Regions from separate parts of the Homo sapiens genome. Here region 1 is linked to region 2. A link means that fine-mapping ties the variant in region 2 to the expression of a gene that starts in the linked region. Tissue or cell type: whole blood. Region 2 holds a variant in brackets; the other region holds the start of a gene. All regions are shown on one strand. Distances are from middle to middle.

The links. PIP is the estimated chance that this variant, and not a neighbour inherited with it, causes the effect.
Region 1: it holds the start of EXOC1, and the variant in region 2 is fine-mapped to the expression of EXOC1 in whole blood (INTERVAL, PIP 0.92).

The regions. Positions count from the first base shown.
Region 1 is chr4:55,848,671-55,856,779 of GRCh38, forward strand. EXOC1 (exocyst complex component 1) reads left to right here and starts at 4,978. Exons shown (of 19, transcript NM_001024924.2): 1 at 4,978-5,283. RefSeq lists a silencer at 4,770-4,869.
Region 2 is chr4:55,891,407-55,899,515 of GRCh38, forward strand. It overlaps EXOC1 (exocyst complex component 1), which reads left to right. Exons shown (of 19, transcript NM_001024924.2): 13 at 1-16; 14 at 1,229-1,305; 15 at 2,146-2,374; 16 at 5,311-5,494. All of the region lies in intron 4 of EXOC1-AS1 (EXOC1 antisense RNA 1), which reads right to left. Among named protein-coding and RNA genes, the nearest start is that of EXOC1, 42 kb to the left of the region's middle. The variant T/A (reference allele first, on the strand shown) is at 4,169.

The DNA.
Region 1 (8,109 bases), 43 kb before region 2:
AGAAAATAAAGAATCTGGGAAGTGCAGCATTGTAACTCTCATTGTCCACCCCCCACCCCCACAAAGAGTTACTTGGTGTTCTTTGTGTTGATACTAATAGTCTTACATCTCTGAAAAAAAGTTCTTCCTTTCTTAGACAGGAACATGCATCATTAAATTATAAGAAAACAATGCTAAGAAATAGGGAAGAGAAAAATCAAAGTAAGTGTCATAATAAATGTCAAATGTTTAAAATGTCACATTTCAAATTGAAATTATATAAATCTACATGATTTTAAACATTTGAACATTTTAAACATTTGAAGATCCCTTAGCTTTATACCCAAATTAAAATTAATCAGACTGATATCAAAAGACAGTTTGGATGCCAGTAAAAGAGGCATCCAAATATGAAATATGAAAGTCCACTTCCATGAAATCTATGAGTTTTCTCACTAAACAATGTCCTCAAAGCCAGTGGAGCTACCACCGATGTCATCAGAGACAGCCCTAGAGGGAGTGGGGCACTTTTGCCCTTCCTCCTTCAGGGGTTCAAGCTGAGGAAAAGGATGGTCTCCCTCCCCCTTCAAAAGGTGCAAAATGGATTCAGGTCTTGAGAAGAACATGAAGTCTTTACAATCTTCAGGCCTCTGCTTTACTGGTGCACAGTAACAAGAGCGATTTCTCTGAGGAAACAATTAACTTCTATAAATCATCAATATTTACTACTCTTCACCATTTAGAAGAGACTTTTCCCTTGGAGCTTACTAACAATGGAAAAGTTATTTCATGCTATGTAAGTATGAGATTCCCTCATATGTGATACATGTTAATATATACAGCCTTCTTTCTATGTAAAGGAAGCGGGACCTCAGAACCTCCTTGGGCAGAACCTCCTTGGGTGACTATTACATGTTTTTCAAGTAGGTAAATCTGCCCAATTTAATCTACTAAACCAATCTGCATGTAATAACAGCTACCATTTATTGAATGCTTATACTGTGTGCCAAGCAATGAGACAAGTGCTTTACAAGAAACATCTTAGCAAATATGCCCAAGATGGGATTACTATTTTTTATATACAGATGAGAAAATTGAGGCTCTGAAGAGTTAAGTAACTTGCCCTGTGGTCACTGACTCAGTAAAGGGTAAAGACCAGATTTGAACCCCTGGTCTGTGTGATTCCGAAACAGGAAAATTCCCTTATCCCCATCGCAGGGCATGCGATGGGGGTGTCACTCACTTCTTCAGTGCCCCACTGCTCAAACCTCTAGGGGGAGCATGCAGAAGGGCAGGTTGTGGGGCTCGGACTCCACGGCAGCGTATAGGGGTGAACGTTTACAGCTCCTGAAGCCCTGCTCAGCGTTTGTTACAGGGTGCTCTTTTAGTTTAGTCATCCGGATGGCTTGTGTTAGCTAGCTCAATTAGACCTCCTGCCTAATTGCAAGGAGAGGGCTTTCTGTGTCCTGAGGTTTCTTGCCTTGGTGTAACCGGAAGAATCGGATCCCACGTGAGGGCTTGGAGAATGAGTGCAAGATTTTATTGAGTGGAAGTAGCTCTCAGCAGATGGAGAAGCCAGAAGGCAGATGGAGTGGGAAGGTGGTTTTTCCCTGGAGTCGGGCTGCTCAGCAGCCCAGATCTCCCCTGACCACCTGGGGCTAAAATCTGCATCATTCTGCCGGTGGATGGCCTGCCTGTTGATGGCCTGCCTGCATCTGTTGTGTGCTCTTCCCCTGGCACGCTTCTATGCACGTCCAGCCGCTTGTGTGTTCTTCCGCCAATATGTTCTTCTCAACATCCAGCTGCTTGTGTCTCTGCCTGCTAGGGTCTCAGGGTTTTTATAGGCACAAGGCAGGGGTGTGGCAGGCCAGGGTGGTCTTGGAAAATGCAACATTTGGGCAGGAAGGCAGGAGTGCCTGTCCTCACCTAGGTCCATGGGCACAGGCCCAGTGGTGGAGCCCTAGCCAGGGCCCACGTCCTTCCCTTCCCAGCACTTCCCTGCCCCACTCCTGTGTCAATTCCAGTAATGATATACTTTTCATTATTTCATGTTGCTTCTTAAGTCTACTTCATGCAGTAGGCTGTGATGACATAAAGATATTCATTGAGAGACTACCATGGTATACCACGTGTCCTAGGACTAGACAATTTGTTCCTCAGTTTTCTGGTTTTAAAATGAGGATAATAAAGATTCCTTCCTCACAGGGTAGTTGTGATGATTAAGTTAATTAATACATGTAAAATGCTTAGAATAGTACATAGCACATAATAAGTGCTATGTAATTGTTAGATATTATTCTGAGTTCCAGGAATCAGAGATACATCACTGAAAAAAACAGATAAAAATCTTTGCTTTCATAAAACTTCATTCTAGAGAAACAGCAAATGAACAAACAACATATACAATATGTCAAAATGTAGCAAGAACCATGAAGAACAAAAGTAAAAAAGGAAGATAAAAAATACTGGGAGGAGGGTGGTTGGGGAACTATTTTACATAGGGTTCTCTTGGAAGGCCTCAGTGAGGTAACATTTGAGCAAAGACTTGGAAGCAACATGGTAGTAAGCCATGCAGACTGAGGCATGAGAATTGCTTGAACCCAGGAGGTAGGAGGTTGCAGTGAGCTGAGATCATGTAAGTGTACTCCAGCCTGGGTGACAGAGCGAGACTCTGTCTCAAAAAAAAAAAAATTAGTATTTGCTAGATTGCAATAATTGGTTCTTCAGGAGTTGAGTGGGGAATGCTGCCACCAGGATAAACACTATGGAATTCATTGCACTTCAAACTTTTACTTAGTTACCTTGTGCTTCTTACGGAAGTGGACAAGCTGGCAAAGAAAGGAGTTACTATGCTCGTGGGAGTAATCAACTGTGATTAGCAAAAGGATCTAGGATTGTTGCTCCACAATAGCACTAGGGAGGAATTTGGAATCCAAATAATTCGCTGGGGCTTACTAGGTGTTTCTGTACCCAGGGATAATTTGAACAGGTAATTACAGCAATCATGGCTTAACCAGAGAAAGGAAAATAAAGGCTGAAGGTGGGGGCTATTTCACCAGAGAAACAACTTAGACCAGCTGATGTGCTGGTCAATGGTGAGGGAAAATTAGAATGGGTAGTGGAAGAGGGAGTTAATACAAGTATGGTCCTGACATTGATGCAGCAGTAAAAACTGAAGCTTATTCTATTAACTCTCTTATATTAAGGCTTTGCTGAGATTGTGGCTGGCCATCACCTTGAAGAGACCTCTGTGAAGGACTGAACATAACAGAGCACACAGGCAGATCAGAGTGCTGCAAGATATGGACACCTTCTATGTCCTTCTGTGCAACTTAGGCCATGACTTCAAATCCCTTCAGCCTATTATTCTAACCACTGCTGCAGCAACCTGCTCGGAGCAGGTTTGATGACCTTTGAACAAGTGCGAAATACCAGCACCTCTCCTCTCACTTCCTGCCCCAGCATGTCTCTGATGTGGGAGTCAGCTTGGCATTCACAACTGTGCGATTTGTAAGTGTGAAGTAGTTAATGCCCAAGGGCATTAACCTTCGATCAAAGAGGACAGGAGCCGACATACAAATGCTTCCTCCGTTCTTTCCTTTAATGGACAGTTCTGAGACTCATTTCATAAAGCTTCTTAGAAGGTCCTAAGGGACTAAGAAAACATTCAAATATGGTGATGACCAACTCAGTAACACATTCTTATACTGCATCTCCCTTTTTGTTTTGTCTTCTTCCTCTTCCCTCATTTTGCTCCCTGGGATCAAATTTCCAAATAAACTATTGCATATAAGTGTCACTTTGCAGGGAATCCAAGAGGAGAGAGGATAATTTAATTTTTGGACACACAAGTTTGAGGTGTCTATAAGACATCCAAGTGGAAATGTCAGGCGATGGGCAGTATATACACAAATCTTGAGGTTCAAGAAAGAGATCTAGGCTTCTGAAATGCAATTCATTTCCCAACTTTGAGGAGGGCTATAAACATACAGGTAAATAAAAGAAAGATAATAGGACCAAAAAACACATGCAATTGTCATAGAGTGTCCACAGTAAGCATTCCGGTGCCAAGCAGGAAAGGGTCTTTGTAAAGATATAACCAGATCCTGCTCTTAAAAGGGAAGTCATTTGATGAAAGTGAAAAGTATTCTAACTACTGTTTGCTCATTTAAATTTCTAGCACATTTATCTGATCTGTACCTCTCTTTGGTCACTTATTTTGTGTCCTATTTTATATATATTTGTACCTACACCTTGTCTAGTCCTACCACACTGTGAACTCCTTTAGGTTAAGATTCATGCCTGAATCACCTCTGTACCTGGAATCAAAGTGCCTAGCATTAAAAAAAAAAGGTGCCAGGAATATTGAATAAATAAAACACCTACCTGCAACCAGCAACATTGGCATCATTTATGCATCCCAAACTTAAATATGCATAAGCATCATCTTGCTAAGATGCAGATTCTGATTCAGTAGATCTGAAGTGAGCCAGAGAGGCTGCATTTCCTAAAAAGCCCCCAGATGATACCCAAGCAGCTGATCCACGGACCACACTTTGAGTATCAAGGTCATGAGGACAATGGTTCTTGACCTTAGCTGCATATGAGAATCATCTGGGAAGATATTAAAAGTACTGATGTCTGGGTCCCACCCGCAGGGATTCTGATTTAACTCATTTAAGCTCTCCAAAGTTTAAGTAGCAAAGATCTAGAGTTAATAGAGCTTTACGTATGAAAAAAGAAAACATTTAATCGAATTTCTTCTTAAATGAATTGCTGCAAATATCTGAATAAATAACTCTTAATCCCCAACTCCCAAGTCAGTTTCTGTGCCACAAAGGCCCCGCCCCTGCCCTTCCCTGACACGCCCCTCCAATGAGGCCTTGTTCCGCCTGGCCACGCCCGTCGGTTGGCGCCCCGCCCCTCCGCGTCTATTGGCCGCTCCCTTTTTCTCCCATCGCTGCTTCTTCCTTCTCTACGCGGTCAACTTCCGGCGCGGAGTTTGTCACGTGCCCGGATATAGGAAGTGTTGGGGGAACGGCCGCTTCCCGTTCAACGCTTTATTGAGGGGCGTATCCTAGTGGCCCCCATCCGGTCTCCGTTTTGGAAGACCCGCCTCGGCACAGCCAGGCTCAGTCCGGCCTTGCGGTAAGCCTTCGGCCGCGGCTGCCCGGTAGTCCCGGCGGCGGCGGACAGACGAGCTGACAGGCACCAGGGTCTAAGGCGGCTCCTCAGTCCGGCTGCTGTCTCCACGCCTGGGGTCGGGCACCGCTCCTTCTGACCTTCCTTTCCCCGTTTGTCCCGGTAAGACGAAGTTTGGTCAGAGCATTCTCCAGTCCCTTGTCCTCGGGTCTAGGAGAATGCGGAGCTGGGAGGGCAGTCCTCACGGGCCCCATTACGGTTCCGCCCATCGGAACCAGATTTTGTTTGTGCAAAATGACCCTGATCGTAAGCTCTTTGGCGTGGTCCAGGAGAGGAGAGCGTGACTGTGCCTTCCTCTTTGTCCAAATTCACATCCCGGCCCCCCAACCCCAACTCCCCCCCACCCCCCGCCAAATCTCTTAAGTGTATTTCTCTATTTCCTTGCACAGTTATATCTTCTAGATGGCAATGCTTCATGCATTAATATATCTCAGCAGCATACAGGGCCCAATGCACACGGGCACTCACACTGACAGGCTATTTGTCACACAGTGTGGTGGTCCAACTGAGCTGAAGGAAACAACCAGTACAGAGTAAGCAGTGGATGGCTGCCTTTGGAACGTGGTCAGATATGGGTTCTCAGACCTGGAGAATAATTTTAGAGGACCTCTAGGGATTTATTTACTGACTTTCAGAAAAGTACCGTAAAGACTGAAGAGTTAATCACTCGACTCTTAGGATGTAAATGCCATAGAAACACCCGGCTTCAGGTCTTCATAAACATATCTGTCATGTTGACTACTGTAACCTAGAATAGTGTCTGCCACCTAATAAGCATGAGTATTTGCTGAATGAATGAAGAGTCACATACTGCTTTTCATTATGGCTAACTCCTTTATGAGGTATGCCCAATCCTGTCTTGTTTTGCCTCTTACTGTACACTCAGTTGCTTTTAGCCAGAGAAGGAGTATGTGGTAAACGTTGGTCCCTATTATTCATTTGACCAGTTTTTACTATTCAGTTCTAATTACCTTAATAGATATTTAAGTATCCACTAAACACAAAACTATGATGAACATCCCTCCCTTCTTTAAGAGAATTCTTGAGATAGAGAAGCTTATGATTTAATGAGCCCATTAGACGGCAAATGCAGTAAGTGCTGTAGAAATTTAGAGGAGAGATCACTTTGGATTAAGATCTTCATTGAATCAACTTCATGTAAACCATGAAGTGTAATTAGGGTTTGGATAGGGCGGAGATGATATTCCTTACATGGAAAGTACCAAAGTGAAGATTTGATGTCCAAAATGAACAGAGTGTTTGGAGTGGAATGTTTTTGAGAACATTAGGAAAACGTTGAGTAAAAGCGTGATGTGATACAAACTGTCTTTTAAAATTATCTTGTTGTTCAGGGTTGTGGGACCTTGCAAAGAGAACCAGATTTTGTAGGGTTAAGTAAAGTTGATATGAACCTGGGTCAGTATATTTGCAGTGCGAAAAGAAAGGAATAAATTACATGTAGATGGGGGGAAATCGCAGAATGTGGTAGCAGATTTCATGTTGATAAGGGAATAGGGAAGCAAATATGGTAGATTTTGAACCTGGACATTTGCTTATAGATGTGAAAGTTAGGAAAGGGGAATCTTGGAGGAGCTATAGCTGTCATGTTAGTGAATTTAAGCATTTGTTAAATGCCTAGTTTGTCAAGTTCTAGGAATACAAAGATGATTAAGACATGGTCCTACTTTTAATAGGGGATAAAATACAGCTAGCTAGAAAATACAATTCATAAATGCCGTATTTATGAAGTAGAGGGGAAGTGTTAGAGAGGTAGAAATTACTCTTTGCGTGGGGCGGCTGCAGGGAGGGGGCTACTTTACAGAAAAGATGACATTTTAGCACAATCTTGAGGGATGAATTGTAATTTCCTAGGGAGAAGAGAATTCTAGGAAAAGAAGGTTGCATGAACAAAAGCCCAGAGATAGAAAAGTAAACTGGCCAGTGCCATTGTGGCTTGGGCTTAGGAAGAAATATAACATAGTGTCTGGGCCCTACAACATATTAAGGGATTAGCAGCATGGACACTCTATAATAAGCCAAAAGGAGGAGAGGTTGGGTGAAGGTGTGGAGAGACGGAGAAGCAAGCAATTGGGGATAATTGTATTTCATGGCTTTTATATCCTCTGCAAGGTAGATTGTTAAGTCATTTGCAGAGCGGGAGGAGGCTAACTGCTAGACCTGGAAACTGAAGGAGAGTAATAAGGATTTACAACAATAGTCATGGGGAACGGAAAAAGGAATCATCAAATGAGGGATTAATTGCCGAGCAGCATTGAAAGTCTAACTTTCACTGGATGTAGATATTTGTAATGCACGCAATGAGCGTGGATATGTGGCTTTTGAAAGTGGCATTTGGTAGTCCAAGAGAAGTGAAGAAAATAATACAGTTTATGGAGATTGATAAAAACAAGATCAGCTGGTCTACAAACAGGGTGAAATAATTGTAGGGGATAGTTTAGGTATAGGGAAATGAGCACTGTCTCCAGGCTAGGTTGGAAAAGAAGTAAACTTGGAGAGGCCAGATTAAGAGAACAGAAAGAAGGGCAATGTCAGAAGACTAGAGGCTGAGATGAAGTGGAAGTGGGAAGATGTGAATTTTATGAGAAAAGCAATTTTTGGAATTGGAGCAGAGATAGAAGTTTTACAGATTGAGTAAAATATTGGAAAGACTTGTTTTACAAAATAGTCATTGTGCTATAAAAATACGTTGTAAATCATTTATTTAAAAATCATGATTTCTTCATTTTCCCATAGAAAGAAATAGTGTTTTAGAAGTTAGTGTCCTAGGCAAGCTCACATGTATGAAATACTACACATTTGCATTGAAAAATTGTAATACATATCCACACAAATATGTATATGAAAAATAAAATAGAGATTTAAAATTATTTTAAGTTGATGTTTGAAAAGATGCTGAGTTAGATAAGA
Region 2 (8,109 bases):
TATGCCTGGAACTATGGTATGGCTCACAGTGTATTTTGGATAGTATTTATGATCTGTAATATAATTAGCTTAATTAATATGTGGTCACAATTTTATGATCAGAAGAGAAAAGGAAAGAATTTATCATGTAAGGATTTTTTTATGATGTAAGGATTTAGGATGTAAGGAATTTTTGTAATACCACAAGATGATAAAAACAGTGACAGATGAAGTTTGGGCATCTAATTTAATATTTCAGAATATTACAAGCCTAAATATTCTCTAAATTAGTGGGGGGAGGAATGTCTGAGTTTACTTTGCAAAGAACATTATTTAAAAGGCTAGTTTAACATTTTAGTAGTCATCAAGATAAATATAATGTTTTAAAATGATGTTAGAGTGTATACACTTTGGTATACCAAATAACAATAATGATAAATAAAAGAAAATGAGGCCTCAGATTTGCCTTCCTTGTGGCTTTGTTACTAACTAGCCATGAGATCTTAAGCCAGTTATTCGATCCCCAGCTTTCCTCTTCTGTAAAGTAGATATCATAGTGCCTATTCAGCATGCCTTTCTGGTAGCATACATATAAGAGAATAAGATGAGAGAGTTTCTTGAGTATTTTGAAGAACTTAAAAACAGTGCAAATAAAGTGTTTTTTAAATTATCATCTCAAAATTGTATGCCACAGACAACCAACTTATAAAAGCAGTCATAAAATAAATGAGAAATGGATTATGATAAATGGTTTAGAGTGTTCATTGTTATGGTAGTAATGGTGGCAAATTTGTTTATTTGTTGGCCTCTGTAAGAATTTTTTATAGCATTTTTTTAATGCTGAAGTTCTATTAGAATAATTGATGAGATTTCCTTAATTTTTTAAATTCTCTTTTGAAAGTTGTGTTTGGACGTTTTCTATTTTTGTGGTGGTTGTTGTCAAGCTGCCCCCACTCCCACACCTTGCGTTCAGCTTCCTGTACCTCCCTACTTCCCCTCAGGTGCACACACAAATACAACTTCTCACCCCACAAAAGTTCTTGGATAAAACCTAAGAAGAGTATCTCATGAACATTCTTAAATAGCATACTAAATTATATAGCTAGCTTTATCATAATGCTACCTTTAAAAATATTTTTCATAATGTATTCTTTCCTAGGAATTTTAAGACTGAGCAGGCTTTTGCTATATCAATACTAGTCAAATTGTTGGTCTTTTATTATGTAAAGTGCCTGAATAATTTTTGCAGGCTGAAGCAGAGGACCTGGATGGAGGAACATTATCACGGCAACATAATTGTGGCACACCACTGCCTGTTTCATCTGAGTATGTCTTTGTTACTATCATTGTTTATTTTGGAAAAAATAAACTTTAAAATGTGGAGTGCTGCTCATTGAGGGGTCTAGATGTTTCTCAGTAGCCTGACAGCACTCACAGTACCAGCATGTGTGTCCATTGTCTTATCAAACGTTTTACTGATTTAAAATAGGGCCTATTTTATGGCTCTTCAACTCTTCCTTGCTCCAGGACTTACAGAAGATGAAGTCAGTCTGTTGTTTGCTGGTAGGGGGAAGCCTTTGAATTGTAGTGTATTTCTTAGAAATCACAAAGCACATTTCATGACCCAGCTTTACAAATTAAAACTAATTCAAATGATAAAACCCAACATCAGTAAAATATTTTTATATCAAAAACTACTATAATCATATTTAGACATTTTTATTTGTTTTTTGTTGTTGTTGTTTTCTGAGATGGAGTCTCCCTCTGCTGCCCAGGCTGGAATGCAATGGCGCCATCTCAGCTCACTGCAACTGCACTTCACCTCCCGGGTTCAAGCGATTCTCCTGACTCAGCCTCCCAAGTAGCTGGGATTACAGACATGCACCACCACGTCTGGCTAATTTTTGTACTTTTGGTAGAGACAGGGTTTTACCATGTTGGCCAAGCTGGTCTTGAACTCCTGACCTCAGGTGACCTGCACACCTTGGCCTCTCAAAGTGCTGGGATTACAGGCGTGAGCCACCACGCCTGGCTATTTAGACATTTTTAATTGAAATTTAATTATGGTATTTTTGTCCTTTTGTATATACCCAGTGGATTAAAGTTAACGGTGAATTCACCTGAAGCTTGTTATAACTTTATACTTCTTGTCTGTTTTCTGAACAGGAAAGATATGATCCGCCAAATGATGATTAAAATATTTCGCTGCATTGAGCCAGAGCTGAACAACCTAATTGCATTAGGAGACAAAATTGATAGCTTTAACTCTCTTTATATGTTAGTCAAAATGAGTCATCATGTGTGGACTGCACAAAATGTGGACCCTGCTTCTTTCCTAAGTACTACATTGGGAAATGTTTTGGTGACTGTCAAAAGGAACTTTGACAAATGCATTGTAAGTTTTCTTTTTTAAAAAAATACCTTAGCATCCTAGTCATTGCAAAATATAGGTAAATGTATTTAAAATCGAGGGATTTCCAGCTTTCTGTTGGGGAATCTGTTGTTTATGTCCCTCGAAGCAGGGCATGGCAACAATCTACATGAACAGAGTTAGTTGGGTGGCACTATGCCAGCTAGTTTCCATTCCACACTGTGAATCTTGGCAAGTTCTGGAGGAAGTGGCACAGTGGCACCAGTTGCTTAAGAGATCCACTGGAGGCCAGACGCAGTGACTCACACCTGTAATGCCAGCACTTTTTAAGGCCGAGGTGGGCAGATCACCTGAGGTCAGGAGTTCGAGACCAGCCTGGAGAACATGGCGAAACCCCATCTCTACCAAAAATACAAAAATTAGCCGGGCGTGGTAGCACATGCCTATAATTCCAACTACTCGGGAGGCTGAGGCAGGAGAATTGCTTGAACCTGTGAAGTGGAGGTTGCAGTGAGCCAAGATTGCACCAGTGCTCTCCAGCCTGGGTGACAAGAGTGAAGACTGTGTCAAAAAAAAAAAAAAAAAAATCTACCGAATCACTGACATCTCAGTTTATTAGTCAATGACCATTGATTTAATGAAACAATTGAAACAATCATTTGGGTTTATTGTTATTGTTCTTCTTTTAATACATTCTAGTAAGAAAACTAATTTGATTATTTTAATTATTTAATTTATTTTAATAGTTTAGTAGCTTTAATAATTGTATTTTATTTTAGGAATAAATTGTTATAACTGAGCAATTATCATTTTCCTCCTAATAGAAAAAAATTTGACAACTTTCTTACTATCTGTTACTTTTTTTTTTTTTTTTTTTTTTTTTGAGATGGAGTCTCGTTCTTGTTGCCCAGGCTGGAGTGCAACAGTGCAATCTCGGCTCACCGCAACCTCCGCCTCCTGGGTTCAAGTGATTCTCCTGCCTCAGCCTCCCGAGTAGCTGGGATTGCAGGCATGCGCCACCACGCCCTGCTAGTTTTGTATTTTTAGTAGAGATGGGGTTTCTCCATGTTGGTCATGCTGGTCTCAAACTCCCAACCTCAGGTGATCTGCCCACCTCAGCCTCCCAAAGTGCTGAGATTACAAGCAAGAGACACCGGCCATCTATCCATTACATTTTTTATACTTGTATGTATGAATTGGGCTAGGCCAGGTTAAAAAATGCTTCATGAACACTTCTCAAGGCATGGCACTAGAGAAGGTAATCTAGACAAAGATATAAATTCATATTTTCTCATAAGTTGCATATATATATATAAAGGACATAGGTTTGCCACTGAAGAGGAGGGTGGTTTCTTCTGCCTGTCATACTTCTGTATATCTTATTTCAATAATGTCTTATTTTTGATAAGATCTTATCTCTCATTTATGAACACTGGTCAATAAGATCAATAGACAGCATTTATAAATGAGTGCTTACTGTGTACCAGGCACAAGTCTGGGCACTTTGCACACATTATGTCATCTAATCTTAAACCCAGCCCCTCAATAAGGTAGATTGTTTGAGAGGTGAAGTTACTTTCCCCAGGTCCACAGTTAAAAAATATGGATCTTGTATTCAAACCCAGAAAGTCTGGTTCTAGTACCTGCAATCTTACCACTACCTTTTCTACTGCATCTGTTTTTCACCTCACAGTTACCAATACTGATGAAGTAGAACATTAGTACAGATAATATGAAATAACTGACTATACTCTTAGGGTTTTCTTATACTAATGTCAGAAGCCTAGAGATAATTATTTTTCTAATCCATGTGTCATA[T/A]GGTTTTTGAGTTATACTCCCCAAATCTCAACACAATGAAATGTTAGGTAGAAGCTGAAATAATACAAAAGTATTTGGCAGTGTAATCATTCCTACTGAGTAGATTTAGATCCCTTCAGAATCATAGAACCATAATTGAATCCGTGGATCGTTTTGAACCTAAGATTCTGTCTGCATGAAACATTTCTTTCGCATTTTGTCATATAATGCACAAGCAGTTTGTGGAACTAAGGCTAAGTGACTAATAAATATATGGAAAATTAAATAATGCAAATCCATATGGAAATGCCTATCCTCCCTCTTTGTTTCTGTACTCTGAAAATAGAGAGTTTGTCTATCCAGACAGAAATTTTAGACTGACGAAAATTGGAAATGACTGTGGTTCTCAAACTTGACCACGTGGCCACCAACCAGAAGTTACCCGGAGGGATCCTATAGGTGCTCTGGAATCTTCTCTCCTGTAACCTAAAATCAGTAATTGCCTTGTACTCATCTTTCATAAATGGTAGAAATGTGTGTTGACTGTTTTTACTTTGTACAGAGACTTGAAGTTCACGGCCTTGATTGTATTTTGTTTTGTTTCATTTTATTTTTTGAGACAGTCTTGCTCTGTCACCCAGGCTGGAGTGCAGTGGCGCAATCTTGGCTCACTGCAACCTCTGCCTCCCAGGTTCAAGCAATTCTCATTCCTCAGCCTCCCAAGTAGCTGGGATTACAGGCATGCACGACCCCACCCAGCTAATTTTTTTTTGTATTTTTTGTAGAGACGAAAATGGCCAGGCTGGTCTTGAACTCTTGGCCTCAAGCGATCCACCCACCTTGGCCTCCCAAAGTGCTGGGATTACAGGCATGAGCCACCGTCCCCAGCTTATAGATGGTTTTAAATAATCTGTATTATTTTGATTTTCTTAAACTTACTGTAAAATGGTTTTATTATCTATAGAATTAGTTTTTCTTAGTTATCCTTGTTTTGATTCATCTTCAATTAGTAAGCATCCAAAGTGTTCTAGGTACCACATAATATCCTGCCTCTATGATATCTATGTATATATCTATATCTCCATCTATATATTTTGTTATGATTATATGTAGTTTTAAAGTTGCTTGGTTATTTATCTCCCTTGCTCTCTGCCTAACTTTAGAGTAACCAAATAAGGCAAATGGAAGAAGTAAAGATCTCAAAAAAGAGTAAAGTTGGAATTCTTCCATTTGTTGCTGAATTTGAAGAATTTGCTGGACTTGCAGAATCAATCTTCAAAAATGCTGAGCGTCGTGGAGACCTGGATAAAGCATACACCAAACTTATCAGAGGAGTATTTGTTAATGGTAAGCTTTTGTTATGTTCTAAAGAATTGTTATAGCTATTGTTTTTATTTCTGGTAACTAAGAAATCGGGAGCAGATAGGTTCATTATTTTGTATATCTTATAATCTTTTTTAGGTTTTCTAACATTAAAGATTTCTTGAATTTGGAAAATAAAACCTATTTGTATTCATTATGAACCACTTACATTTTAGGGTTTATGTGGGCTTATGACTATGCAAAATTGAAAATCTTTTTTTTTTTTTTTTAAGATGGGCCTCACTCTGTCGCCCAGGCTGGAGTGCGGTGGCATGATCTTGGCTCACTGCAACCTCCACCTCCCAGGCTCAAAAGATCCTCCTACCTCACCCTCCCAAGTAGCTGGGACTACAGGTGCACCCTACCATGCCCTGCTAATTTTTTGTAGAAAATCATTTTTTAAACACAAAAACATGACCTTCCAGATTACATTTGCATTTTAACAAGTGGTCTTCTAGAGATGATGGGCTGTGATGTGTGTGTAACCTTAAGCAAATCAATTCACTTATTTAGGACTCAGTTTTTCATATCTACTATACAAGGAAATTAGTACTAAAATACAAGAGAAATTAGTGCTGAAATACTGTAATTCGCTTTCTTCCTGTGTCAGATCCCACAATTAAGTTACAGAAAAGTCTGGACATGTCATTTCATCTGAAATAAATGATCTGATTGCATATATTCAGGAATTGTAAAAGCTAAAAAATTGATAGAAAATGGAATCATCTCACCAATTGTTGCCCAGGTTGGAGTGCGGTGGCATAATCTCGGCTCGCTGCAACCTTCACCTCCCGAGTTCAAGCAATTCTGCTGCCTCAGCCTCCTAAGTAGCTGGGATTATAGGCAGGCATCATCACGCCTGGCTAATTTTTGTATTTTTAATAGAGACAGGGTTTCACCATGTTGGCCAGACTTGTCTCAAACTCTTGACCTCAAGTGATCTGCCCGCCTTGGCCTCCCAAAGTGCTGGGATTACAGGCATGAGCCACCGTGTCCAGCCTTGATTTTTTCTTTTAAAATTCAAAGTAGCTTTGCTTTATCTGATTCTAAAGTAATGTGGCTAGGCACAGTGGCCCACACCTGTAATCGCAGCACTTTGGAAGGACCAGTTGGGGGATCGCTTGAGCCCAGGAGTTCAAGACCAGCCTGGGCATCATAGTGAGGCCTTGTCTGTACAAAAAAAATTTAAAAAATTAGCCAGACGTGGTGGTGTGTCCCTGAGTTTCAGCTACACAGGAGGCTGAGGCAGGAGAATCATTTGAGCTCAGGAGGTCAAGGCTGCAGTGAGCCTTGTTCATGCTACTGCACTCTAGCCTGGATGACAAAGCCAGACCCTGTCTTAAAAATAAATAATAAATGAATGAATGAATTCATTATTCGTTCTTTATAAATCTTTATAAACTAAAACTTATAAAACTTAAGAACAGACAGATATTCCTTTAATTGGATAAAAAATCTATCTCAGGCCTAAAGGTTACATGATACTTAACTGCAACAGTAGAGATATTCCCTCTGAAATGAATTTAAAGCAGAAGTATTGTTAGATCCTTTATTATTTAGCATTGTTATTGAAGTGCTAGCCAGTACAAGACCTGAAACATAAATAACTATTTATCCCCAAAAATCAGCGAATAGAATTTTCAAATCAAGAAGAAAGTAAAGATCATTTTTAATCTTGTTGTACAGAGATAATGTTAAATTTTTATTCTTCCAAACTTTTAAATTCCCTGTCCCTCTCTTCTATATATGGGCATATTGTATGTGTGCTTTCTTTAATATAAAAGTGTTGTCATACCTGACACACTATTTTTGAAGCTGCTGGACTCTATATAATCTTAGTATCTTTCTTAGTTAGTTAATATAGATAAACATAATCATTTTTAATGATTGCATAGTCATCCATATGTCATTATCCATTTACCAAATCTTCTATTAATAAACATTTAGGATTTTTTTAGTTTATCTATCTTTGTATACTTGTCAAATAATTTCTTTAGGGTAAATTACTAGAAATGGAATTACTGGGTCAAAGGATTTATGTATCTCAAGTCTTTTCCCAAATTGTGATACAGAAAGCTTATGTCAGTTTAGTGCTATGAGCAGTTGCATTACAGCTGTACCAATGCTGGGTTTTACTAGGTATTACCAATCTTTTTATTCTTTGTCAACCTGATAGGCTATAAATTATCTCACTATTTTATTTTGCATTTCATTGATTTTGTATATGGTGTCTTTACTTTACATGAATTTTCAAATTTTATCTCCAATTTATTTATCTTTCCCCTTAACAGTCTTCTAAATTTTGGGCCATTCTTAGCAAGGTCACACTATTGCAAAATTATTATTTTTCTATTAGTTATATTTTCTTTAGTACTTATGATTGTATTATTTGTTTGCTTTTTACATTTTAAATAATTTAGCAATTTAGAATTTGACTGCAAGATGTAAAGTAGGAACTTAAATTTCATATATTAAAATGGTCCAGCCGGTTGTCCTAACACATTTTGAATAATTCATCATTTCTCCATTGATCTGAAAAGCTACTTTTATTATATACTGAATTTCCATATACACATGGGACTGTTTTAGGATGACTTTTT